Regions from separate parts of the Homo sapiens genome. Here all the other regions are linked to region 4. Evidence: fine-mapped expression QTL. A gene starts in region 4. Each other region holds a variant in brackets. All regions are shown on one strand. Distances are between the middles of the regions. Region 1 has its middle 17 kb from the start of GGCT. Region 2 overlaps CRHR2 (corticotropin releasing hormone receptor 2). Region 3 has its middle 7.2 kb from the start of GARS1-DT. Region 4 holds the start of GARS1-DT (GARS1 divergent transcript). Region 5 overlaps NOD1 (nucleotide binding oligomerization domain containing 1).

Evidence for each region. PIP is the estimated chance that this variant, and not a neighbour inherited with it, causes the effect.
Region 1: its variant is the best candidate, but not a certain one, in a credible set for the expression of GARS1-DT in whole blood (TOPMed, PIP 0.52).
Region 2: its variant is the best candidate, but not a certain one, in a credible set for the expression of GARS1-DT in whole blood (TOPMed, PIP 0.56).
Region 3: its variant is the best candidate, but not a certain one, in a credible set for the expression of GARS1-DT in prefrontal cortex (BrainSeq, PIP 0.50).
Region 5: its variant is the best candidate, but not a certain one, in a credible set for the expression of GARS1-DT in whole blood (INTERVAL, PIP 0.53).

The regions. Positions count from the first base shown.
Region 1 is chr7:30,518,820-30,523,923 of GRCh38, reverse strand. It overlaps the pseudogene LOC100287825. Among named protein-coding and RNA genes, the nearest start is that of GGCT, 17 kb to the right of the region's middle. The variant G/T (reference allele first, on the strand shown) is at 2,017.
Region 2 is chr7:30,654,469-30,659,572 of GRCh38, reverse strand. CRHR2 (corticotropin releasing hormone receptor 2) reads left to right here. Exons shown (of 12, transcript NM_001883.5): 9 at 3,561-3,646; 10 at 3,858-3,993; 11 at 4,493-4,534. It overlaps LOC124901609 (a long non-coding RNA gene), which reads right to left. Exons shown (of 2, transcript XR_007060276.1): 2 at 1-5,104. Among named protein-coding and RNA genes, the nearest start is that of CRHR2, 25 kb to the left of the region's middle. RefSeq lists an enhancer at 3,645-4,844. The variant C/T (reference allele first, on the strand shown) is at 1,982.
Region 3 is chr7:30,582,406-30,587,509 of GRCh38, reverse strand. No RefSeq gene overlaps it. Among named protein-coding and RNA genes, the nearest start is that of GARS1-DT, 7.2 kb to the right of the region's middle. The variant T/C (reference allele first, on the strand shown) is at 1,965.
Region 4 is chr7:30,575,426-30,580,529 of GRCh38, reverse strand. It overlaps GARS1-DT (GARS1 divergent transcript), which reads left to right and starts at 2,751. Exons shown (of 7, transcript NR_038889.1): 1 at 2,751-2,881; 2 at 3,820-3,966.
Region 5 is chr7:30,448,046-30,453,149 of GRCh38, reverse strand. It overlaps NOD1 (nucleotide binding oligomerization domain containing 1), which reads left to right. Exons shown (of 14, transcript NM_006092.4): 6 at 110-1,934; 7 at 4,769-4,852. Among named protein-coding and RNA genes, the nearest start is that of NOD1, 28 kb to the left of the region's middle. RefSeq lists an enhancer at 3,124-3,624. The variant A/G (reference allele first, on the strand shown) is at 2,729.

The DNA of each region.
Region 1 (5,104 bases), 57 kb after region 4:
CTAGGGATATGATTTAGGGCAAGTTGCTTGAGCTCTTTGGGCCTCTCTTATTACATCTGCATAATAGAGGTGGTATTGTTTGACTTCCATTTGTGAAGTTTAAATGAGATTTTTTTATTGTTGTTTTTATGTTAATCCCTAGTACATGGCCTGCTGTAAACACCCAGGACACCCAGGATATGGTCATTGCTCTTTGATTTTCCTCATCCCCAGTCTCAAGGGGAAGCCAGGACAATGAGAACAGCCACTTGCCATCAAGAGTCACTGAAAGGGCCTCAGGGTGGGATGGTGGGGGGATAAGAACCATGAGAGAAGTCGGCACAAAGGAGTTATGGGACAAAGCGTCCAAGATAGGCAGAAAAGAAAATGTAGCCAGTTGATGGGGAAGAAAGGAAGTCAGAGGGCTTAGACACTGAGGGGGACAGAACATCTCCATGTGCATTCTCATCTCTGGTAGTCAGCAACAGGTATCCACGGGGAGGGCCCTACATCATCTGCTACCCTGAAGGATCTGGAGGTAAGAGGCTCTGGGGAGAGGTGCAGTGACCCTGCAGGCCAGCCCTCCAACCTCCTCCCACAGTGGACACGGCATGCCCCTCTGCCAGCTGAGACAGCCCACACACACCCCAGCCTTAATGATTGTTCTCTCTACCTCTCCCCCACTCCTCCTCCACCTCCTCGTCTCTGCATGCACCTCAGAGCCCATGCCAAGAACTAGCAGTAGTCCTGGACCCGAGGTCCATAAAAATCAGTCAACTGAATAACACCATCAAATCTTTGGTAAGAGTCCAGTGGGGTCCCCTTATTCCACGCTGCCAATCCTGGGCTCCAGTTTCCCCTTGGGGCCCTGAGGAAAGGAGCTGGGGGCACCTGGTGCCAAGGACAAATAGGGAACTGGGGCGCCCAGGCCTCACCTAGAGGGACCCCAGAGCATGCAGTATGGCTCTTCTTTTGCTGCCCTCTTTGCCGACTCTCTCTTCTCCAGACACCCCTGGAGAGGGGTATAAACACCTTTGTTTTATCAACCCAAAGTGCCATTGATTTAAAGACACCTCTATTTGAGAAATGTTGGAAATCGTATGTCTTAGAATTGATCAAATACACCAGAATGTGAGCTGAAAAGAAAGCACCGGACTTAAAATTTAGGAAGTCACTGGTGATCTTACTTGGAGAAATCCATTTCAGTAGATTGGTAAGTGCAGCACTAGATGGCTGTGAGTTGGACAAATGGGAGGTGTGGCATTGTATGCAGCAGAGATGCATGGATGGTGTGCAGACCAGTATTGCAAAAAAATTGTGGTGATGGGAAGATGTGATAAAGCTCAAGATGTGGTACGATTTAAAGGAAGGTAATTTTTGTATGAGGACAACTTGAGCCTTTGTCAAGGCTAAGGAGAAGAAGCTGATGGAGAGACTAAAGGAGTATATGAGGCGCTGTGGAAATAGATTAGTGGAGGGGGCATAGATATGAAATTAGTCAGGGCTGGCCTTAAGTGTAACTTTTTAACTTATTAGCTGACGTTGGACATCTCACCTCTGTGAGCTCAGGAGGCTCACAATCTCCTGAGCTTTGGTCTCCTCAATTGTAAAAGTGAGTTAATCATTTCCCTACCTTATGGAACTGTTGTTTGTATTAAGTAATTTATCTACATAAAGTTCTTGGAACATTATGGTCAGGACATAGTAGATACTCAATAAATGGGGTCTACTATTATGAAGTAGATACTCAATAAATGGGATCTACTATTATGAGACTACGAGAGACAGCATAATTGATTAGCCACGTCCAGGTGGGAAGGGATGGGATCAAGCTCACAGGTTGAAGAATTCACCCTGAAAAGGAAGAGAAATCCCTCTGTGGTGGTTTGAAAAGATGTCCACAGATTCTTTGCTATCCCTTCCTTCAAAAGATAGGATCTAATTCCTCTCTTCTTGAGTGCAAGGGATGCTTAATGAATTACCTCTAAATAATAGAATGTGGTTGAAATGACAATGTTCAGCTTTTGAGAGTAAGTT[G/T]TAAAAGGCATGTGACTTACTCCATGCTTCTTCTCTTGGATCACACAATCTGGAGGAAGCCAGCTGACTTTTCACTTGAACACTCAAGCACTCTCTGGGGAGGTGCCGGGCAGTGAGGGACTGAGGCCTCCTGCCAACAGCCATGTGAGTACACCATCTTGGAAGTGAAGCCTCCACTCCTAGTCTAGCTTTCAGATGACTGCAGCCCCAGCTGATATCTTGTCTGCAACCTCATGAAAGACTCTGTACTAGAACCACTCAGCTAAGCAACCTCCAAATTCCTGACTCACAGAAACTATGAGATAACACATATTTGTTCTTTTAAGCTGCTAAGTTTTAGGGTAATTTGTTACAAAGGGTAACATATACAGATTTTCTCTGAGGCAGAAGGAAATCAGAGAATGACAGGTGAAAGATGAAAAGATAGAAAGGAAAAAAGATAAATGTTTCTGTAACATTAAAATATGAGGTATGTTGTCTGCTGACAATGAGGTGGCTTGGCAAGACTGCTAAGAGATTGGAACAGCCAGGCAGAAAACAGGAAAGGGAATTAACTTGGAACACAAATAAGATTGAGCCTACCTACCTTTATGCTAAACCCAACTACAGAAATCATTTTGCTAATGGAACCAGATCAGACTCCACATAATGAGTCTTTATCTCAATCGTGAAATTCAGAGGCTGGGGGCCTCTCTGAGCCTACCCCAGAGACCACCTTTGTGAGCAAACTGCTAATGAGTGAATTCAGGGATGAGGATGGCTCAGGCTTATCTTGAAAAGTACTCCCTGATGTCAAAATGATTTGCTACAGCTACATCAAGTCTAGCACATTATTTATGAATAGGGATAGACTACCAGAAGTATTGTAAGAGAATAATCAACAAGTCTTATGTAATCTGCAGCAAACATACTGCAGTAACAGGAAAATCCACTGTCTTTCAAATGACTCAAGTTTGCATTATTCCTTCCTGTTTGGACTGTCTCTCTCTCTCTCTCTCTCTCTCTCTCTCTCTCTCTCTCTCTCTCTCTCTCTCTCTCTCTCTCTCCTTCTCTCTCTCTCTTTCTCTCTCCCTTCCTTCCTGCCTCTCTCCACTCTGGCTGCTAGCAAGAGAGCCCTGGGAATTCTCTGTGATGTAGCCAGCCAACAGTTTTTAGGGTGGTGCTCCAGCACATAAAAGGGACCAGGCCAGGACTGCCATCTCCTAAAGTTAATTTAAAGAAACTAAGCCCTGGTTTTTGTAAACCCCACAGGTCAACCAGGAATTGAGTCACTGCATCTCCCTGCAGAATGACAAATCATGCTCTCCTTAGTAGCTTTACACCAGTTCTGTTTGCAAATTGGGGAACTGAAACATCACTGTAAAATTGGTGCCTTTTGTATCTTATACAATAGGGCTCATTCATTCATTCACCCTTTCATTCACTCAGCTGTTTATTTAGCAACTGATTATTGAGTGCCTCTTCCATGAGGGGACAGGCATGTACTAATTTTGGGAATAAAGAGATGTATATTGTGATCCTAAGGAGAAGCAAAATGTCCTGGCACATAGTAAGCACTCAATAAATATATATTGAATAAATAATAATTCCTGCTCTCTCTGGGCATCATAGTCTAGTAGGGGGAAGAGGCATGTAAACAAATAAAGTTGTTTTAGTACAATAGTAAAGGAATCGATCAAGTACTATACATGTAGAATACCATATCTACCTGGAAGTTAGGGATGATTTGATAGAAGAGGTAACATTTGCTTGATGTTGAAGAACAAATATGAGTTTTCCAGGAATGGAAAGTAGGAAAGGTCTTTGCAGGCAGACCAAAATTATTATACTCATAGGTCTTATTGTCCGCGGGATTGGTTTTGTCACTCCTGTCTAATCCTAACTTGCAAATATAAATATTTATCAATATTTCCCTGGATTTTAATTGTTTTTGTGTTTGTTTCCAAGACAGTGATAGGTGGTCAAAGTTAGATGCAAAATAACTCTACAAAAGAGATTATTTTTTACAAAGTAGATGACATTAATTCAAGAAAAAAAGTATTTTAAGTTTCTTCCTGAAAGAACCTTTTAATTTCTTGTATTTTCTAGGCCAGGTGGAAGATATTCTTCCTAAAAAATGGTCTTCAGATTACCTCTAAACCTTCCTCTTTGACACCTGGCTGAGAACCCAGAAAACACCCCCTGTTCCATAGCAGACCAGTGTTTACTGTTATTTGCCTCTTTAGAGCAGTTCAGAGGACCATCAGCTACCATACCCACTAAACGAAAATGGCAAAAGGACTTGTAATGGCCAAATGCAGCAATATAATTTGTTATTATCAATTCACTAGTGATTTGAAATATTGAGAAAATTCCCAATTGAATGACAGCATGGAAAATCACATTACATCAGGGAATAGTATTTTCTAGGCCACCAGATTTCTCTAAATTGGAATTTGGAAATAAATTTTATTTGCAGCAAGAAACATGTATTAATACTGACACTTACTAAAATGTTTTAATGAGTTAGAGCAAGCATTTTGTGTCAAGATACTACTGGTCTAACAAGGCCTGCCACTATTATTGATGCCCATTATGTACTTTTCCGTGAAGTTGTCTAACCTGTTCTATTAAACCCGTAAACTGCTTTGACAATCGTAAAAGAGACAAAAAGGAACAAAGTAAGAATGATGGGAAATAGAAAGCCAAGGCACCCAATTTTCTTCTAGTTTAATCAATAATTTGGGGCTCTATCACATTTGCTCTCAGCCTTACAGTCTGATCCTTATTTTTTGCCAGGCTGCAACCCTCACTGCATTTAATAGAGGTTGATGGATATTTTTATAGCCCTGCAGTTTCAAACTGATTATCAGGTGTTTAACCAGCAAAGCCATGCAATATTTGTATAAATCAATCCTGTAATGAAAGGTTATCACCCACAAACCCAGTCAGTGTCAAACCAGAACAAGGTAAAGATTTGGAATGCTTCCCTTTCTGGATAACACACTATTGCTTATCTTCAATTTTCTGGATAATTTAGGATTTTATTGAATATGATTCTTCAAGAACTGAACGATCATCCTAAACAAATCAAAGTCACTGTATCATC
Region 2 (5,104 bases), 79 kb before region 4:
CAGAGGCAGAAGCCAGGTTTTGTCAGCAGCTAGTAGGATTGTCCTTGGACTCCCAGCTGCAGTGAGTCACTCACCCCTCAGTGTGTATGGAAACCCCATGAGATCCTTTCCCTCCCAACCAGCTGCCAAGGGCCATCCTGGAGGAATAAGGCTTTTGATGAGCCTGGAACTGAGCCAAGGAAGGCTGGCCTGGATGGGGGACCAATGGTGGCAAAGAGTAAGCCCCAACTGTAAAGATGTTGGAAGGGTGGTGAGGAAATGCCAAGAGAAAGGGAGGCGAGGAACGCAAGAGCTCAGTGTCAAGACCCAGCTCCATGCTTCCTCTTCCAGACCCATTCTCTGGCTCCACCCCTGCGTCTGTGCTCACGAGCCCTTTCCTTCTTTCCTTTGGGCCCAGCTCTTTGCACCAACAGGGGCTTCCACATTCCAAGCTGAGCCCTTCCAGAAGCTCTATCTACATTATTTCCAACCCTTGCATGCTCAAGTCCTAAAAGAAGTAGGGTTATGCTCTCCATTTTACAGAGGAAGAAGCTGAGAGAGATGAAGTGGCTTGCCCAAGGTCACCACTAATAGCTAGCAGAGCAGAGGCTCAAAGGCAGGTCTCCTGCTTTGTCCCCACCATCTGCCTGTTGTCCTCGAGGTTGGACACGTGTTTGGTGTTCCTGCCATCCCTACACTCCCCAGCAGCTCACAGCTGCATTTCTGCTGCTAAGAGACACTCACTTATTTCTGGTTCTGAGAAGTGAATCAGGTGGTTGAATTTGCAGGAAGCCTGACTTCTTGCTGGTGTTGTCATTGTTGGTGTCATGGGAAAGGATTGGCAGTCACTAGGCCAGACACAGGTCTTAGTGGTCTCTGTGACTATTTCAGCCCATGCTGATCTTCTAAGGCAAGCTCTGTGGTTAGGCCCCTCGGGGGCAGACAAGGAAGCAGGAGCTCATGAGGTTAAGCAACTTACCCAAGGCCACACAACTGCAAATTGGAACAGTCAAAATTTGAGCCATGAGACTAGGACTTGGTGCTTCAGTTCATTTGGGAGGGGGGCCTCATCTTCAGTTCTTAGCCCATCTGCCATTTCTCCAGGTCTTTTTGACACCTTAGGAAAGATGTCATCTCCCCCACCCCCAACCCCTCCAGGCCCCCAGCTAGGCCACAAGCCCTCTGCAAGCAGGGGCTGTGACTGCCTGTCCACTTCGCCATCGCTGATGCCTGGCTCAGAGCCTGACACATGGTCCATTGATTCATTGAATGAATGAACAATTAAATAAAACCAGAAACAGGCTGAACGAGGGCAGGGTACAATAGACAGTTCTTACTAAAGAACTGGAGTGTGTTTTTAGCAGGGAGGTAGAGTCCAAGAATGGAAAGCCGGAGAGCTCAGTGTGGGCAGGGTGACCAGAAGGCTCCCTGGAGAGAGAGGAAGGTACCTGTGGTGGTGTGAAGGGGGAGGCTGGGAAACAGGCTCAAAGGAAAGAAGGATTTTCAGGTTACATAGACCCAAGCTGAGATGAGTGGGGCCACATAACTAAATGTCTGCCAAGTGTAAGGATGGAGACAAGGCCTTGGTTGCTAGGTAGATGAATGGATAGACGGATGGGCCAGTGGATGGGCAGATAAAAGAGTAGGTGGATAACTGAATGGATTGGTTATTGGGTAGGTAGATGGATGGGTAGATGGATGGGTACGTGGATGGATAGATAAAACAGTAGGTGGATAATTGAATGAATTGGTTGTTGGGTAGATGGATGGATGGATGGAAGGAAGGAAGGATGAATGGATGAATGGCTGGATGGATGGATGGATGGACGGATGGATAAAAGTAGGTGGGTAAATGAATGAACTGGTTGGTAGGTAAGTGGATAGATGGATAGATGAATAAAGTGGGTGGATAATTGAATTGATTAGTGGGTTGATGGATGTTGGAAGATTAATATTGAATTCAAGAAAATGTGGCAGAAATGAGAATATATTTTGATTCCAA[C/T]AGTTTCTACTCTCAGGGAAGTCCGGAAGAATCAGAAAAGGTCAAATACTTTGTATTACTTGTATGAGAAAATTAGGATTCACTTATATGTTAAGGTGACTTGTGTCCCATGATCCAGGGGAATATGCCAGAGACCCAGGAGCTGGAAATTAGGTGAGCCCTAGGAGAAAGCTGGGGGTATCAGGTCATGGCAGCCCCGCTGAAGGCTTTCCATCCCCAGCCCTCCCTGGGACCCCCAGGCCATACCACTATGTGGTAAGAGAGCAGTAGACAGTGGCTGAGGTGGGGTGTGAGCTCTCCCTGCCCCTAGGGCTACCCGAAAGCTTGTGGGGAGCATCCAGAGGCTACAGGTTGACAGTCTCAGGATATCTGTCTGTATCCTGTGTCCCTCCTCTCCCAGCCAGGATTCAGAACTTGGGAGGGTTAGAAGGGCCCAGCCCAAGCTTAAGAAGCAATGGATTTTCTTGACAGAGTGTCAGAGGTGTGTGTGTGTGTGTGTGTGTGTGTGAGTGGGTGTGTGCACACGAGCCAGCAGACACCCCTGGGCTAACATGTGTCTCCCTCTGGCCCACGAGCACTTTGTCAGGAAACAGCCCCACTGTGTCAGGCCGACACACACTCCCTTGCCTGCCTGCCTGCCTATGCTCGGAGGCAGGTGAAGAGAAACGCAGATGTGCCCGGGCCCCAGATCCATGCTCACACATGCACACGCTCTGTGAGGCAAACACACTTGCACAAGTGCTTAAAGGATAGACCCACAGACCCACACTGCAGCTCCCAGGGGACAACACAGTCATAGTCACAGCCAATACAGATGAACAGACACTCGCAGGCCCATGGGGACCCACACCCAGCAGGGAGCAGCTGGGGAGCCACACAGGCCAGTTCCAGGGCCAGGTGCTGGGTGGGGAGGCTCTGGTGCTGAGGGAAAACTCAGAATGAAGATAAATGAGGCCCTTCCTGGGGCCTCAGAGCCAGCCCCACAGCCCATCCATCTTCCCTGTCTAGGGTGCCTACGAAGGCTCTGGAGTTCCTGGGCACAGGGGTGGGATGCTGGCAGATTAATCACTCATTCGGCAACTGAGTTCTTAATCCCTCCATCTGGCCTTGTCCGCCCCACCATGGCAGTGCTGTCCTCAGTCAGAAGGACCTCAGGCCGACCTAGAGCCAGTGACAGTGCAAGGGACTCAGAGAGCCCCGCAGTCAACAAGTAGGGACCCCGTGGCAGTGAGGGGAAGGGGGCTCCCATAGGGTCCCTATACTGGGGAGAGGGTTGGGGGCTTTCTCAGCCTCAGAGGGCATGCCCCGTGCTCTCGGTCACGACCCACAGAGGCTGCCACCTTTCCTCCTCAGTCCTGGGCTGGAGACACAGGCCCTGGAAAATGGGGCTGTCTCCCCATCCTGGCGAGGGAGGAGCACAGGCCTTGGGATGCTGGCAGGTGCTAGGGGGACAGGTAGGATAGGTGTGTGCGTGGGACATCGGTTTCCAGGGGTCTGCGGGGAAGGGGGCTGCCTCTCGGCTCATCTCAAACACGTGCTCCTTCCTTTTCCCTCTTTCCCATGCCCGCCCTCCCTCCAGATCAATTTCGTATTTCTGTTCAACATCGTCAGGATCCTAATGACAAAGTTACGCGCGTCCACCACATCCGAGACAATCCAGTACAGGTATGTGAGGGGGTCCCTTGACCCCACAATGGGGACAGGAGGAGGTCATCGGGCCGTCCCCCTGCTTCCTGGCAGAGCCCTCTGCCCCAGGCCTCACCCAGGGAGCTCGCTCAAGCTCCCGGAAGAAACACCACCACTGTCTCCCGCCGCCCACTGGGTGAGGCCCTGCCTGCCGCATGGGCTCAGACCTGTGTCCACCTCTCGCCCCCAGGAAGGCAGTGAAGGCCACCCTGGTGCTCCTGCCCCTCCTGGGCATCACCTACATGCTCTTCTTCGTCAATCCCGGGGAGGACGACCTGTCACAGATCATGTTCATCTATTTCAACTCCTTCCTGCAGTCGTTCCAGGTGGGGCCTGTGACCAGATGGGGGCCCCACAGTGAGCTTTCCTGAGGCTGCTCTGGCAGCCATGCCCTCACTAAGGGGGTCCCGTGGGACTGGCACACCCATGGCTCAGTTACATCCACAGAGTTAGAAGCCCGTACATGCTCAGCCTGAGCCTGGCCAGTTATCCCCATCCCAGCCTGGGTCTTCATCCTACCAGCCCGCACCTACTGTCCCAGCACCTGTTCTGAGGATGCAGGCAGCCCAACCAAATGCCCTGGGACAGGTCACACAATATTGAGGAGACCGGAGTCTGCCTGGCTCCAGGCCTGTGACCACTGCTCACTCAGAGTGGACCGTGGAATATCTGCACCCTGAGGCTAGGACCCCACCCAGCTCTGACTCCAGGGGTTCCTGGGTCAAATTGTCCCCCCCCCACCATCTTGTCCCCAGTGCCACCCCACCAGGCAGAACAGCTCCGCAGGTAGGTCACTGACCACTCCCTCCTTTCCCTCCTTTCCAGGGTTTCTTCGTGTCTGTCTTCTACTGCTTCTTCAATGGAGAGGTATGAAGCTGGGCCCTCGGGGTGGCCTGGGATATCCAGGTCCTCAGACCCCACTCCAGGGCAGCTCCATTGGTGCTGCCCGGCCTTGCTGGAGTGCCAGGGAGAGGAAGCCTTGAGATACCACCCGGCCTTAGGGGAACAGGAATCCTTCTCACAGGGGCTGGAGCCAGTTTAGAAGGTCAACTATGCAGCCCCGAAATAACATGCCAGCACCCCACATGTGCACTCAGAGCTGGGTGAGCAAGGAAGCCCAGGCCGCAGGGCCTCATGGAAGAGAGAAGCCAGAGCAGAGGTGGTGACAGAAGGAAGCTTCCAGAAAGAGATGTGTGCCAAGCAATCAGGTCTGTATGGACTCAGGGAGCAGAAGAGAGACCAGCACATTCCCCCGCTACCTGCCACAGAAAAGCCCACACACCAAGAGCAGGCTCTGGGGAGTCAGGCGGCCGTGAAGCTTGGCATGTGCAAGCCAATCATGAGGCCCAAAGCCCCAGTGCAGCTGACGCAGGGAAGAAGCGCACTCGTACCTGGGCTGGGGTGGATGAGGACATGGAGCAAAGAGCAGACACAGCC
Region 3 (5,104 bases), 7.0 kb before region 4:
CCTCAGAATGCAGGATGAGTCAGCCCAGCCTGTGGACCAGATGATCTGGCCTCATTAATCCTCTCTCATTGACTCTCCTTTCTGGCCTGTGACCCATTAATAATGTTTTGCCCCAACTTCCAGCCTCCCTTAGCAAAGATTTGTTTCAGCCTCTGTCGTCCAAAAACGAGGAGGTGAGGTCCCTCGAATTCTGTGGGACAGTGTCAATAGCTGAAGCAGTGCAATTTGTTGTAAGATTTAATTCTCTTTTGATTTTGCTGGTACAGAAGCATCAGGAGGGAAGAGGTTTGTTTCTCTTCCCTCCCTCCTTGATTCCCAGGGCATAGGTAAGGGAAAACTTTATCTTCTAATCTGTTAAAGTAGGGTTGGGTCGGGGGTAGGCATTCAGGGGCTTGGAGAGTGAGAAGCAGAAGTGGCCAGAGTGACAAGATTTTCTCTGAGGTGAAAGCCTGCAGAACCAAGGCCTGTGGATGCCAGAATAAATGGAGATGTGTTCACTGACTGTGACAGTGCCAGGGTCTCAGGGAGAAATGGTCTTGTGTTGCTCTGGCGGAGATTGGGTCCTAGCGATGGGATTCTGAACCTTTGAAAGGACTCCTGTGTTCCAGCTTGACACTGAGTGACCAAACTTTTGGCTTTTTTTTTTTTTTTTTTTTTGAGACGGAGTTTTGCTCTTGTTGCCCAGGCTGGAGTGCAATGGCACAATCTCAGCTCACCACAACCTCCCCCTCCCGGGTTCAAGTGATTCTCCTGCCTCAGCATCACTAGTAGCTGGAATTACAGGCACCTGCCACCATGCCTACAAAAATACCATGTATTTTTAGTAGAGACGGGGTTTCTCCATGTTGATCAGGCTGGTCTCGATCTCCCAACCTCAGGTGATCTGCCTGCCTCGGCCTCCCAAAGTGCTGGGATTACAGGTGTGAGCCAGCGCGCCCAGCCAACTTGTACTATTTCTAAGCTAATACAAGTCCATTTCACATAGATAACACATTACATTTCTACAGAAATCATTGTATTAAGCCTACTGAAATGCATCTTGCTGTTTTTTGAACTAAAGACCCATGTATAAGTGATAGTTCTTTCATATCAGTACATGAATCTGAGGAGACCCTAATTTTCAGTGGCCACAGGTCCTTAATCTGCTGTGCTTTTCCCTGGCAGTGCTCAACAGCTGGGAGCTGCCCCATGGAAAGGGACTACTGGCCTAATCCCAGACTGGGGTTTGACTAAAAGGTTGCGCCAGGAGGACAAAAGGGCAAGAGAGTAAGACCACCAGCAAGAGAATGACCAAAATGATAGACTTGGGCCATATTTTGGGCTAATTGTGCCCCCCAAAATATATATGTTGAAGCCCTAACCCCCAATGTATCAGTAGTTGGAGATGGGGCCTTTTGGGGGGTAATTAGGTTTAGATGAAGTTACAAAATAGAGCCCTCATGCTGGGATTAGTGCTCCTATAAGACATCAGGAAGTTTGCTCTCTCTTTCTGTCGTGTGAGGATACAGTGAGAAGGCAGCCATCTGCAAGCTAGGAAGAGGGCCCATGCCAGAACCTGACCATGCTGGCACTCTGATTTTGGATTTCTAGTCTCTAGAACTGTGAATAAGTACGTTTCTATTGCGTAAGCCACCCAGTCTATGGTATTTTATTATGGCAGCCTGAGCTGACTAATATAGGCTTCTAGATTGGAAGGGGAAGGAAGTAAAGAGAGAGAATTGATAGGGATAAAGAAGAGGCATCAAGAGACTTGGGGTATCTGCTACTGAAGACATCAGCTCTCTATGACAAAACAGCACAGCATGTTTGGAGTAAGAGAAAGCTGAAGTCTCAACAAACAAATAGATTCTTAATGTTCTATACCACCGGACAAACTGCAGCCCTTTTATACATATGGAGTACTTTCTGGGCCAGTCCTGTGGCCCCTTTCAAATGTATGGTGTTGAAACGTAGTAAGTTTATGT[T/C]TTTAAGGTCTGCCCCTCCCTTCTTGCATTATATCATAAACTCTTCTCTTTTTTTTTTTTTTTGAGACGGAGTCCCGCTCTGTCACGCAGGCTGCCAGGCTGGCGTACAGTGGCGCAATCTCAGCTCGCTGCAACCTCCACCTCCTGGGTTCAAGCGATTTTCTTGCCTCTGCCTCCTGAGTAGCTGGGATTACTGGCACACACCACCATGCACAGGTAATTTTTTTATATTTTTTAATAGAGACAGGGTGTTGGCCAGGCTGGTCTTGAAATCCTGACTTCAGTGATCTGCCCGTCTTGGCTTCCCGAAGTGCTGTGATTACAGCCATGAGCCACCGTGCCCGGCCAACTCTTCTCAGTTCTAAGTGTCCTAACACCCTTCATCTCCTGCTGACTGCAAGGCAGTTCTCAGGGAGGAGCCTGGATTGTGTCCATGTATAAAGAAAGACTCTGCTGCTGATGTGCAAAGGAATGTGGATGTGATAGTTTCCAGCCTGAAAGTCCCCCTCTTTTCATCTCCGCAGTATAGTTCTTAGAAACAACAAGCCTTGCTTTTACAGTGAGTCCATATCTAAAACTTTATCTGAACCCAAAATACCTGAGATAGGTCTCAGTCAATTTAGAGAGTTAATTTTGCTAAGATTAAGCATGTATCCAAGACAGCTTCAGGAGGTCTTGACAACGTGACAACATGTGTCCAAGGTGGTTGGGGCACAACTTGGTTTTATACATTTTAGGGAGATATGAGACATCAATCAATATATGTAAGATGTACATCAGTTTCGTCTGGAAAGATGGGACAACATGAAGCAGGGAGGGGGCTCCCTGGTGACAGGTACATTTGCATTCTTTTGAGTTTCTAATTAGCCTTTCACTGATACATACCTATGACCTGGGTTTCCAGGTCATAGGTACGACTGCATTCTTTTGAGTTTCTAATTAACCTTTCACTGAATACATAACTTACAGGAATAGTCACTTATGCCTTAGTCTGGCTTAGTGAAACAATAGGGAAAAGGAAGCAATTAGATATGCATTTATCTCACATGAGCAAAAGGATGACTTTGAGTTCTGTCTGTCTTTTGTCTACAGGGAATTTTCTTGTGGGCAAATTGTGAGGGAGGTATGTAGCTTTTTTATCTTTGTTGCTATCTTGTTTAGGAGTACAATGGGACGCAGGTTTGCCCCACAGTTCCCAGCTTGGCTTTTCCCTTTGGCTTAGTAATTTTGGAGTCCTGAGATTTATTTTCCTCTCACATCTCCCCGTTTTTCTTTTTAAAATCTTTCAGAGACAGCATTTTAGAAGAAAACAAGTCTCTGGTCTCAGGCTTTGTCTGATCTCTCATGGCTAGGATAGTTTATTCCTAGATGGATAAGTACCACGTTATTTGGAAAGCTCATTTTTAGTAGGTTATGAAGTCTCATGTCCTTTGAAGAGAAAATAGGGGGAGGAAGGAAGAAAAACAACAACAAACAAACAAAATGAAGAAGAATCCTGGAAAATCAATATAGGCCGTATTACTCTGAAGTCCATGTCAGTAGGCAGGTATGAAAGTGGTTTATGTGTGTAAATAGGTTGCTATTATTTTCTTCTGAAGTTTACATTGTCTAGCTTCAGTCTGTAGGGCTTTAAGAAAGACTGCTTAATTTTAAGTGATTTCAAATCAGGAAAAATGGGGTGGGGGGAAGTAAACGAAAGAAGAAAAAAATTGAAAACATTATTTTGGAGACTTGTAGCCAGGAAAAATTTTTGAATTCAATCTAAATTGTAGAAAATAAAAAAAACTGAAAAACATTAGGCAAGACTAGAATCTAATAACAGGTGTACTATAGTTTATGTTGAAATATAATTTTCCTCTCTCCAGTCTCATTTTCACTAAAGACAAGTCATAGGACAAATTCATTTGCAAAATAAGTTGTAGTCTTATTATACTTGGCTGGAGTATTTGCATAAAGTCAGAAGAATAATTATTTGCTATATAGGCTCCTCTTTTTTTTTAATTGGCTTTGCTAGAACTTTATTCCACTAAGAATCTCAGATTTAACTTTAATGCATTAAGCCTGGCCTGTGCCTGCAAATCCTTGCGTTAGTTGAGTGAATTCCTCACTTCAAGGTCCCAAGAAAACTTGGGGCTCCTGGGCCTGTCAGAAAGTGACATTCTTTACTCACTACAGGTCACCCTGTTCCGGGACTGTGCAGACAAGGTATGAGACCAGGTTTCTCAAGGAGTTTTTATTGGCTCTAAAGTCAACTTTCATTCTTTAAAGGAGTCTGTTTGTATCTGAAAGCATCCTATTCCAGTCAAAACCTTGGTAAAATAACCAGTGTCTCCAATTGTGCCCTGTTACAAAGGAACATTCTTGAGAAAGAATCTTTCTCAGAGGAAAGATTCTTATTGCATGTATGCAAATAACTATATTGCCATAAGTTAAGAATACTCACAACTAGTTTCTAAATTTTGGAGAAATCAGGTAGAGAGAAATATGCTCCAAATTTTGTTTACAGAAATATACTTTACTCCATTGTTAAAAGCTATAAATAGCTCAAAAGAAAAGTTTTCTTGGCTCTGAAAAACAAAGGGTCAGCAATGTTTTAGGCAAAAAGTCATAAAAGGACTATTTCAGTTTTCTATTAGTTCAGTCCATGCAGTTAACTTCTTTTCTGCTTGATATTCATGAACATTTCAGCTCTCCACTGGAGTCTTGGAAGTTTTTCCTCTATTCTAGTGTCACAGTCTCCAAAGTTATTAGAAGCCTGCATTCAAGAGCACCTGTCAGAGTCCCACAGCTGATTATAAAACCACCTTTTGAATAGGATAAAAGTAAAACAACTGTGGATAACAAAAGTCTTAGAACAGTCATAAAGACACAATTGACAAAGATATTTGGTTACTTCTGTGGCATACAACAATTTTACATAATTATAATTACCACAATTACATAATAATAATAATTACCACTGATAACATATGCCAAGTCATATCAGAATCACAGGAATTTCATACAATTCTCAAACATATACCAATAACATATGTGCATAAATATAATCCAAAGAAGATTAAACATTGTTTTATACTTGACAATACTTCCTGTATGATTTTATTATATCAAATAAACCAAATATGTCTCTTTTGGACTTC
Region 4 (5,104 bases):
AATTCTGGACACAGTTAGACATAGGAAGAGTGTTTCCTGGGTCGTAAGTGAAAATTTTTTATTTCATAGAACAATTTAAAGCCAAAAGCACAGAATATTATGTTGGAAGGAAACATTTCCTTTAGACCTTTAAGAGAAAACATTTTTAGCATCAGACCACAACAGAACCCGAAAAAAAAGAAGCTTACAGAAGCTGAAAATGAGTTGAAGAATAGAGTGATTATTTCAGGCACTTTAAAAGGGGAGAAAAAGCTGAAAACAGTGAGATGCAATACAAGTTGAAATTTACTTAAAAAATTATAATGTCTTTTATCAATTTTAATTTTATTAAGAATGAAGCAATACTTCAAGAAAATTCCATTGTTCTAACCAATTTTTTTTTTTTTTTTTTGTGTGTGACAGAGTCTCACTCTGTCACCCAAGCTGGAGTGCAGTGGTACAATCTCAGCTCACTGCAAACTCCGCCTCCTGGGTTCAAGCAACTCTCTGCCTCAGCCTCCCGAGTAGCTGGGATTACAGGCGTCTGCCACCACGCCTGGCTAATTTTTGTATTTTTAGTAGAGACGGGGTTTCACCATCTTGGCCAGGCTGGTCTTGAACCTGTGACCATGTGAGCCACCTGCCTTGGCCTCCCAAAGTGCTAAGATTCTTCAGTATATAAATGGTTTTTAGAAAATACCAAAACCCAATTCCTAGAAAGACCATTAAAAATAATTTCCCTTTAATTATAGACAACTTGATTATCTAAAAGCTTTTTTTTCCATAAATCCGCTTATGATTTACTCCAGACCATTCATGACATGCTTGTGAGGTAGAAGAATAGGGTCTGGAGGCAGGGAATCTAAGGCCAATTTGCCCTGACTTCCTAGAACTGAATCACAAGGAAAACCCCACCTCTCCACACCCAAGTAACAAAAGTATCAGAGGCTACTGTCTTTGCACTGCCTCACAGATAAAAATGGAAAGTACCTCTGATTGGTCCCCTCCCACAACCAATCAGACTTGTCGTGGGCCACTCCTTCACTTACATAGGGTATAACCAAGTAACCAATGGAAAACTTCTAGAGGGTATTTAAACTCCAGGAAATTCTGTAACCGGCCTCTTGAGCTCCTTGCTGGAGCCCAATCCCAGTCTGTGGAGTGTACTTTCATTTAAATAAATCTGTGCGTTCTTTGCTTCATTCTTTCATTGCTTGGTTTGTGCATTTTGTCCAGTTCCTTGTTCAAAATGCCAAGAACCTGGATGACTCATAGTCAAGACCCTCCACCAGTAACATATATTGGCGAGCCAGCCAGGAGGTAAGCCCAAAGTTTGGGATTTATTTTTCTTCTCTTGATTTCCCTTTTCCTCTCTGCTCCTTACAGGGGAACTCTTTTCTCTGTCTCTTTTTCCCTTTCCAGCTTGGAACCCTCGGTGGACAGTGCCTAAGCACAGAGGCAACCACAGGTTTCTAACAGGGCCACTCTCTGGTGAAACTGAAAGGTTTCTGTGTGAAAGTGCCTGACCACCACTGCCCAATTCAGGTGAGGGACCTGAGTCCTTTTCCTTTTTTCAGTCTTTCAGTGGCCGTTTCCTAGTAGCTTCTTGGTAATTGAGGGAAACTGGCCGGGACCACTCTCTACTGTTACCTGAAGGCCAAGGAGTGAACCTGGGATAGCTCTCCTGCCCAGAAGGCGGAAGGACTCTTTTGTATCTTTTTGAGTTATAGTCCCTGATCCCTACCTGTGATGCAATTGGCAGCAGAAGCTCGTCCAGGGTGAACTCACACACATTTCAGGCGACTTAAACCCTCTTTCTTAAGCTAAATTCTCCCATAAAGTTGGCCTGTAAGGACAAAAGATAATATCTCTTAGATATTTTGACCTCCCTTCTCCTACTGAATCTATTGACTGGCTGAGGACCTTTGGGACCCACAAGCTTTAGAACACATTCTACATCTTGGACCTCCACTTAAGGGAGCTTGGTGGTCATTGCTTTGGCATCAGTTTGCTTGCCCTGAACCCCGTAGAAATTCTATATATCTTTTATATACCCAATATAAACCCAATCTTTTATATAACCTCTGCACCATTTCTTCATGGGGAATATCCCACTAGCCTTGGTACCGTTAACTCTGCAGTGTTCGGGAACCTCCTTAGTCTTGCAAGGAATGCAGGAAGATATGGCCTATCTAAATTGGTAGGAAGCTAGAAGCTGAGACCTTCATCCAGGGACAAGAGAAAAGCTCATATTAGGCCATTGCCTCTGGAGGGAAAACATACAAAGCAACACTGGTGCCCACCTAAGGTCAGAGATGTCTGACACTTTTAGACTGGACCTCAAAGGGGGATGCCTAGGGGATCCAACTCCAGACCTCAGCCTCTCCAAAGGGGATGCCCTAGGCAAAGGTTCTCAGGTCTAGTACTAAGGCCTCCTTAGAATTGTCTCTCTCTTGCAGACCACTACAGGAAACACTCCATTTATTCCACCTGACTTCCCACTTGGCTGCATCCTCAACCATTGAAATGAATTTGACCCTGATAATCTAAGGAGGAAACATTTGATATTCTTTTGCAATAATACTTGGCCCCAGTATTGTTTGGAATCTGGAGTTTGCTGTTGAATGGGAAAGCAGGATGACGTTGCATGTATCCAGGCTTTGGTGCTGCTGTCCTAAGAAGGGTCAGGCCTAGTCAGCATATGGTGCTCTCCTTTGGTGCTATTTGGCTCCAGTGTCTTTGGAGTCTGAGGAGGTTTGGCCTTTAAAAATCAAACTGCCACCGGAACTGCTTTAAAAATGTTTGGTTCACAGCCTTCACTGGATTACCTATTGGAGCAAACAAAGTGTAACCATGTAAAACCTGTGAGCTTGTATTGATATCTCATGGCTAGAGTTCCAAGGTAAAAGCTATTGGATCTTCGTTTGTGTGTGTGTATACATGTCTAGATGTGTTTATTTGTATGTACACTTATTGTTATATGTTGTGTCAACCAAATCAGCTTATAAATAAAAAAGCACTCATAAATTAAATAAATAAGTCCAAGCAATTTTCAAGTTCATGTGACTTAAGTAAATCTTCATTAAATAGCTGGCTTTAAAATTATTGGTAAAATGAAAATAGAAATATCTTCAGAATTGTCAGCATACATTTTTGTCTGGGTTTTATATTTGTCTTTGCTAGAAATGTTGAAGTGTCAGCATTTGGCATAGAAGATTATAAAGCTATTAACCCAGCCAAAACAAAATGGCCTTAGTTTATGTGGCTTCTTTGACAAATGAGACTAATTTAATATTGTTAGCTAAATCTTCTGGGTTATTGGCAAAAACACCTATGTATTTAACTGTGAGGTTCTTATTTAGGTGAACACATAATGTTCATTGGCTATTAAAAATGGTTAACAAATAAATAACTAACTTTAAATGATGGTGTCTAATATCTCAGTTTTCAGAAGTAATCTAGATAAACTGTTAAAAATGAAAGACTTAAGTACATGTAAATGGGATGAATGATTAGGTAAATTTTGTGTAATTTAAAATCTTAAAAGTATTTTTGATGCCCATTGGATATCTCAGTCATTTCCAATTAAGAAAGGGTTATGATAGGGAGGAATATGTTTCCAAAAATTGTGGAATTATTCTCATCTATAAAATGCTAATATCTGATAGTTTAGGATTTTTTGCTTCCTAAGGTTTCACTAAAATTTAAGGTTACTAAGATGATATGGTTTGGCTTTGCATCCCCACCCAAATCTCTTCTTATAACTCCCATAATTACCGTGTGTTGTGGGGAGGGATCCAGTGGGTGAGAGATGATTGAATTATGCTGTTCTCATGATAGCGAATGGGTCTCATGAGATCTGATGGTTTTGAAAATGGGAGTTGCCCTGCACAAGCTCTCCTTTTGCCTGCTGCCATCCACATAAGATGTGATTTGCTCTTCCTTGCCTTCCACCATGATTGTGAGGCCTTCCCAGCATGTGGAAATGTAAGTCCAATAAACCTCTTTCTTTTGTAAATTGCCCAGTCTTAAGTATGTCTTTATCAGCAGCATGAAAACAGACTAATACATAAGGATATGAATTATAGTTAATATATAATTCTGTATACAAAATATGCCAAAAAATGTGTTATTGGTGAGAAAGAATTATTTTGTGTAGTTTGGAGGTTATCTGAAAGTTAATTCAAATTATGGACTTTAAAAAAAAGAGTTATTTATGAAACAAGGTAGTAAGGAACCAGTAAGTAGGGGAGAGATGTGAAGAAAGTTATATATATGAAGATATGTTTTTGTGAGGGAAGATTGTAGAGATGGTGGCTTTGTAGGAGAAAAGATCTTGTACGATAAATTCTTGTCCTAACGTAAAATGACTGGTTGTTTAAAAAGAAAGATGTTTAGGAAAACTCAGAAAGTCCAAGCATTTTGTAGATGGTCTGGGTAAGTTATGAAAAGAATTCATGTAAGAAAAGGATAATGTACCTTTGGTAAAAAGCATGGGAATGTGGATTTCTTGCCTAAGTTTAGAGGGTGAAAGGATGGTTTTAAGTGAGATAGGAATAATCTAAAAGGTTTGAACAAGTTGTGGAAGGCTTATGAAAAATTAATTGTAAAAGAGATTCTGTGTGTGAACATATTGGCTAAAGTTAAAGGGGAAGACTGGCAATTAGACTTCACCCATATGCCAGTGTGCAAAGTATACAAGTTTTTGGTAGTAGTAATAGATACTTTTACTGGCTGGGTTGAAGCTTGCTCTATGAGAACAAAGAAGGCTCATGAAGTTGCTAAGCTTCTTTTAAAGGAAATAAATCCCCTAGTTTGGGTTACCCCAAAGCCTCTAAAGTGATAAAGACCCATCTTTTAGAACTCAAGGGGCTGCTAAGGCTCTCAGAATCAAAAATTATTTACATGGGAAAGTAGAAAGGGCTAATCAAGCTCTTAAAATGGGTGTTAGCTAAGCTATGTTAGAAAACATCAGAAATTTGGGTCAGCTTATTGCCTGTAGCCCTCTTAAGAACCCTTAATTCTCCTAGAGCAAAAATTAATATGAGCTCATATGAAATGTTATACAGAAGGCCATTTTTTTTTGAGATGGAGTTTTGCTCTTGTCACCCAGGCTGGAGTGCAA
Region 5 (5,104 bases), 130 kb after region 4:
GTGAATTTTGTTTATGCACTCGCCTCTCCTCTTTGAGACCTCCCTGTTTGATGCTGTTTCTGCCTCTCTCCTCACCCTGCTGCTGTGCCCTGCCACCCCCTCCCTCCAGTGAGCAGGTATACCCAGCAGCTGCGACACCATCTGGGCCGTGACTCCAAGTTCGTGCTGTGCTATGCCCAGAAGGAGGAGCTGCTGCTGGAGGAGATCTACATGGACACCATCATGGAGCTGGTTGGCTTCAGCAATGAGAGCCTGGGCAGCCTGAACAGCCTGGCCTGCCTCCTGGACCACACCACCGGCATCCTCAATGAGCAGGGTGAGACCATCTTCATCCTGGGTGATGCTGGGGTGGGCAAGTCCATGCTGCTACAGCGGCTGCAGAGCCTCTGGGCCACGGGCCGGCTAGACGCAGGGGTCAAATTCTTCTTCCACTTTCGCTGCCGCATGTTCAGCTGCTTCAAGGAAAGTGACAGGCTGTGTCTGCAGGACCTGCTCTTCAAGCACTACTGCTACCCAGAGCGGGACCCCGAGGAGGTGTTTGCCTTCCTGCTGCGCTTCCCCCACGTGGCCCTCTTCACCTTCGATGGCCTGGACGAGCTGCACTCGGACTTGGACCTGAGCCGCGTGCCTGACAGCTCCTGCCCCTGGGAGCCTGCCCACCCCCTGGTCTTGCTGGCCAACCTGCTCAGTGGGAAGCTGCTCAAGGGGGCTAGCAAGCTGCTCACAGCCCGCACAGGCATCGAGGTCCCGCGCCAGTTCCTGCGGAAGAAGGTGCTTCTCCGGGGCTTCTCCCCCAGCCACCTGCGCGCCTATGCCAGGAGGATGTTCCCCGAGCGGGCCCTGCAGGACCGCCTGCTGAGCCAGCTGGAGGCCAACCCCAACCTCTGCAGCCTGTGCTCTGTGCCCCTCTTCTGCTGGATCATCTTCCGGTGCTTCCAGCACTTCCGTGCTGCCTTTGAAGGCTCACCACAGCTGCCCGACTGCACGATGACCCTGACAGATGTCTTCCTCCTGGTCACTGAGGTCCATCTGAACAGGATGCAGCCCAGCAGCCTGGTGCAGCGGAACACACGCAGCCCAGTGGAGACCCTCCACGCCGGCCGGGACACTCTGTGCTCGCTGGGGCAGGTGGCCCACCGGGGCATGGAGAAGAGCCTCTTTGTCTTCACCCAGGAGGAGGTGCAGGCCTCCGGGCTGCAGGAGAGAGACATGCAGCTGGGCTTCCTGCGGGCTTTGCCGGAGCTGGGCCCCGGGGGTGACCAGCAGTCCTATGAGTTTTTCCACCTCACCCTCCAGGCCTTCTTTACAGCCTTCTTCCTCGTGCTGGACGACAGGGTGGGCACTCAGGAGCTGCTCAGGTTCTTCCAGGAGTGGATGCCCCCTGCGGGGGCAGCGACCACGTCCTGCTATCCTCCCTTCCTCCCGTTCCAGTGCCTGCAGGGCAGTGGTCCGGCGCGGGAAGACCTCTTCAAGAACAAGGATCACTTCCAGTTCACCAACCTCTTCCTGTGCGGGCTGTTGTCCAAAGCCAAACAGAAACTCCTGCGGCATCTGGTGCCCGCGGCAGCCCTGAGGAGAAAGCGCAAGGCCCTGTGGGCACACCTGTTTTCCAGCCTGCGGGGCTACCTGAAGAGCCTGCCCCGCGTTCAGGTCGAAAGCTTCAACCAGGTGCAGGCCATGCCCACGTTCATCTGGATGCTGCGCTGCATCTACGAGACACAGAGCCAGAAGGTGGGGCAGCTGGCGGCCAGGGGCATCTGCGCCAACTACCTCAAGCTGACCTACTGCAACGCCTGCTCGGCCGACTGCAGCGCCCTCTCCTTCGTCCTGCATCACTTCCCCAAGCGGCTGGCCCTAGACCTAGACAACAACAATCTCAACGACTACGGCGTGCGGGAGCTGCAGCCCTGCTTCAGCCGCCTCACTGTTCTCAGGTGAGGCTGCCAGGCAAGGGGAGCAACAGGTGGGCCGGGCGGGCCAGGCTCGGAGGGCATCGGGAATGGCATCATGGACCAGGATCCCCCAGGACTCATGACCATGGCCCTTGGAATGTCCAGACCTTTTCTTTCTTAGCAGGGCAGAGGTCAAGGTGCAAAGCTTCGAGGCAGGTGGACCTGGATCAGCCACAGCTGGGTGCCCTTGAACAAAGTGCTTAACTCTCAGAGCCTCCACGCCCTCATCTGGAAAAAGAAGATGCTCATAATCCTATCAATTATGGCCACAGGGACCAATGTTAGTTGAGAATGGGTGAAGTGCATTACAAATATTACCTAATGGAATGCTCTTTACAACCCTGTAACTTAGGTACTGTTATTGTCTCTATTTTGGCAGATAAGGAAGTAGAGGCACAGAGAAGTTAATAGCTTGCTTTAGGTCACACAGCTCAGACATAGCAGTGCCAGAATGCATAAAGAACCTTCCTTTTAAGATTAATGTAAGGCTCCGAGATAGCCCTCAAAAAGTTTCTGGAATATGGGAGCTTTTATTACTGCAGAGAAAGCAGACCTTGTGCCAGTTGGCACTGGTGACTTTCTGTGATCAACGCTAGCAGCCCTTCACACTGCTAGAGACCTCAGTTAAAATGCTGACTCGTGGTTGTTTTCCTGTTCCATAGTTTACGGGAAACAGAGCCCAGTCTGTTTTCTTCTATTAGCATTTCCTATGTAAAATAAACCTTGTAAATCTCTACAGGGGGTTAAATTTGCCATTACTTGACTCATGCATTTCT[A/G]AAAAGCAGTAGGGATTTGGAACTGACTCCCAGTGCCTGTCACACCAGTGTCAGAGTGTAAATAATTGCATGGGGACATGGGGTGCAGGGGGTCGAAGGCTGCCCTAGCCTGGGAATTGGAAAACCTGGAGTCTGTTCTCTGTACTCTCAGCCAGTGACTCTCCCTCTGTAGCCCCAGGCAGTCTCACACTCAGTGCCACCCTCTGTCCATCTTTTTTTTTTCTCCCCCAAATGGAGTCCCGCTCTGTTGCCCAGGCTGGAGTGCAGTGGCGTGATCTCAGCTCACTGCAACCTCCGCCTCCTGGGTTCAAGCGATTCTCTTGCCCCAGCCTCCTGAGTAGCTGGGATTACAGGCACACGCCACCATGTCCGGCTAAGTTTTTTGTATTTTTAGTAGGACGGGGTTTCCCCATGTTGGCCAGGCTGGTCTTGAAATCCTGACCTCAGGTGATCCGCCCGCCTCGGCCTTCCAAAATGTTGGGGTTACAGGCATGAGCCGCCGCACCCGACCCCTCTGTCCATCTTTTCAATGGGAAACTCCACACCAGTGTGGTGGCCCTGCCCTTCCTGCTGTCCCCAGGTGAAGCTTTCCTTCACACCAGTGCAAGAAAAAACAGCTTGTAGGAAAGCAGAGGATATGGGTAACCACGGGAAGCACACTCAGTTCTCTGGCTGCATCAGTTAGGATTAGTTTTAGCTGAGAGCGAAAACCCCAAATGTTGGTGAGTTACAAGCTTATTTCTCTCATGTAAAAGTCTAGAGGTAGGTAGTTCAGGACTGGTATGGAGTCTCCATGACCCTCCGGAGCCCAGGCTCTCTTCTGCCTTCCTGTTCTGCCATCCTCACTACCCGGCTTTCCCATCTTGGCCCAAGAGGGCTGCTCAAACTCCAGCCATCTAGTCGACACTCTAGCTATCAGTAAGAAGGAAGGGCAAAGATTGAGAGCATGCCTCAATCTTTTAAGAACACTTCTTGGCTATTACTAATTATATTGCTGCTTAGATTTCAGAACTTAATGGTATGGGCAGAATTTAATGAGATGGGCCCAGCTAAAAGATGGGGGAATCTATTGCTAAGAAAGTATAGATATTGGGAATGTCTAGCAGCCTGTGCTGTCTTGGGCTGGCCATGCCATGTACATACACACTATTTCCCAGCACCAAGCTGGGGACTCTGAGGGAAAGGGTCCAGAGTGTCTGACTTGATCATTTTGATGTGGCCTAAAAATCAAGCTTTTAATTGTTCAGCCTTTTACTTGTTATCAAGGTCAGCTTGTGGGTCTAATTGGGCCCAAGGCTTGTGTTTCTAAGTAAAGTTTTATTGGAACGCAGCCATACCCATTTATTTACTTACTGGCTGCTTCACACTACACAGTTGAGTAGCTGTGACAGAGACCACATGGCCCACAGAGCCTAAAATATTTGCTGTCTGACACTTTACAGAATGACATGAGCAGTCTCCTTTGACAGTGGGACTCACAGCCTTTTCCAGTGACAAATCAGGGTTAGCCCATGTGTTTCTGGATGGGGGGAAGCTGTTGGCATTTTGGGTATAACAGTTCTTGTGAGACCTGTCCAGCATTTTGCAGGACACCTAACATCATTGGCCCTGCCTGCAAGATGACAGGGCACTCCCTCCTCCAGTCACAACCACTAAAAGCAGCCCCTGACATTTCCAAACCCATGCCCTCCACCATACGAGAACCAGGTACAGGGTCTGGCTGACACATAGGTCACACGCAAAGGGTGGATGTCAGAGGTGGCTGGCCTCACACGTCCTCCCTGTGTCCTTCACGGTCGTGTGAGGAGCCAGGGGCTGTGCTGCAGCCTCGCTCATGGGCTGGTGCAGGATGGGTCTGGCGGCCCCACGTTGGCCAGGCTTTGTAAGGGGCTATTTGGCTGATTGCTGTGGCCATTCTCCAGGGGCGTCTATACCTGAGAAAACTCCAGGGCCTGAAGGCTTCTGGATCTTTGTAAGATTAATGGTCCTTCATAATGAGTGCCTGCCCTGACTCGTAATTTTTTTGCTGTTTTATTTCAGACTCAGCGTAAACCAGATCACTGACGGTGGGGTAAAGGTGCTAAGCGAAGAGCTGACCAAATACAAAATTGTGACCTATTTGGGGTATGTCTTTCTCCAGAACACTGGGCCAACTACCTAGTAATAATACAGAGCTGCAGGGAATTCACATTCCCATAGGTCCCTGGATGATCGGCACGGATGGCCCAGGGCTGGGAAGAGCGCTGGCCCAGGAGTTGAGAGTCCTGGGTTCTCTTTGTGGCTCGGCCAGTCATGAAGTCTTGCTGAGCCTCAGCCTCCTCACCTGTAAAACTGGGATCCCAGTATAGGCAAGTAGGCTTACAACTGGTTATTGGG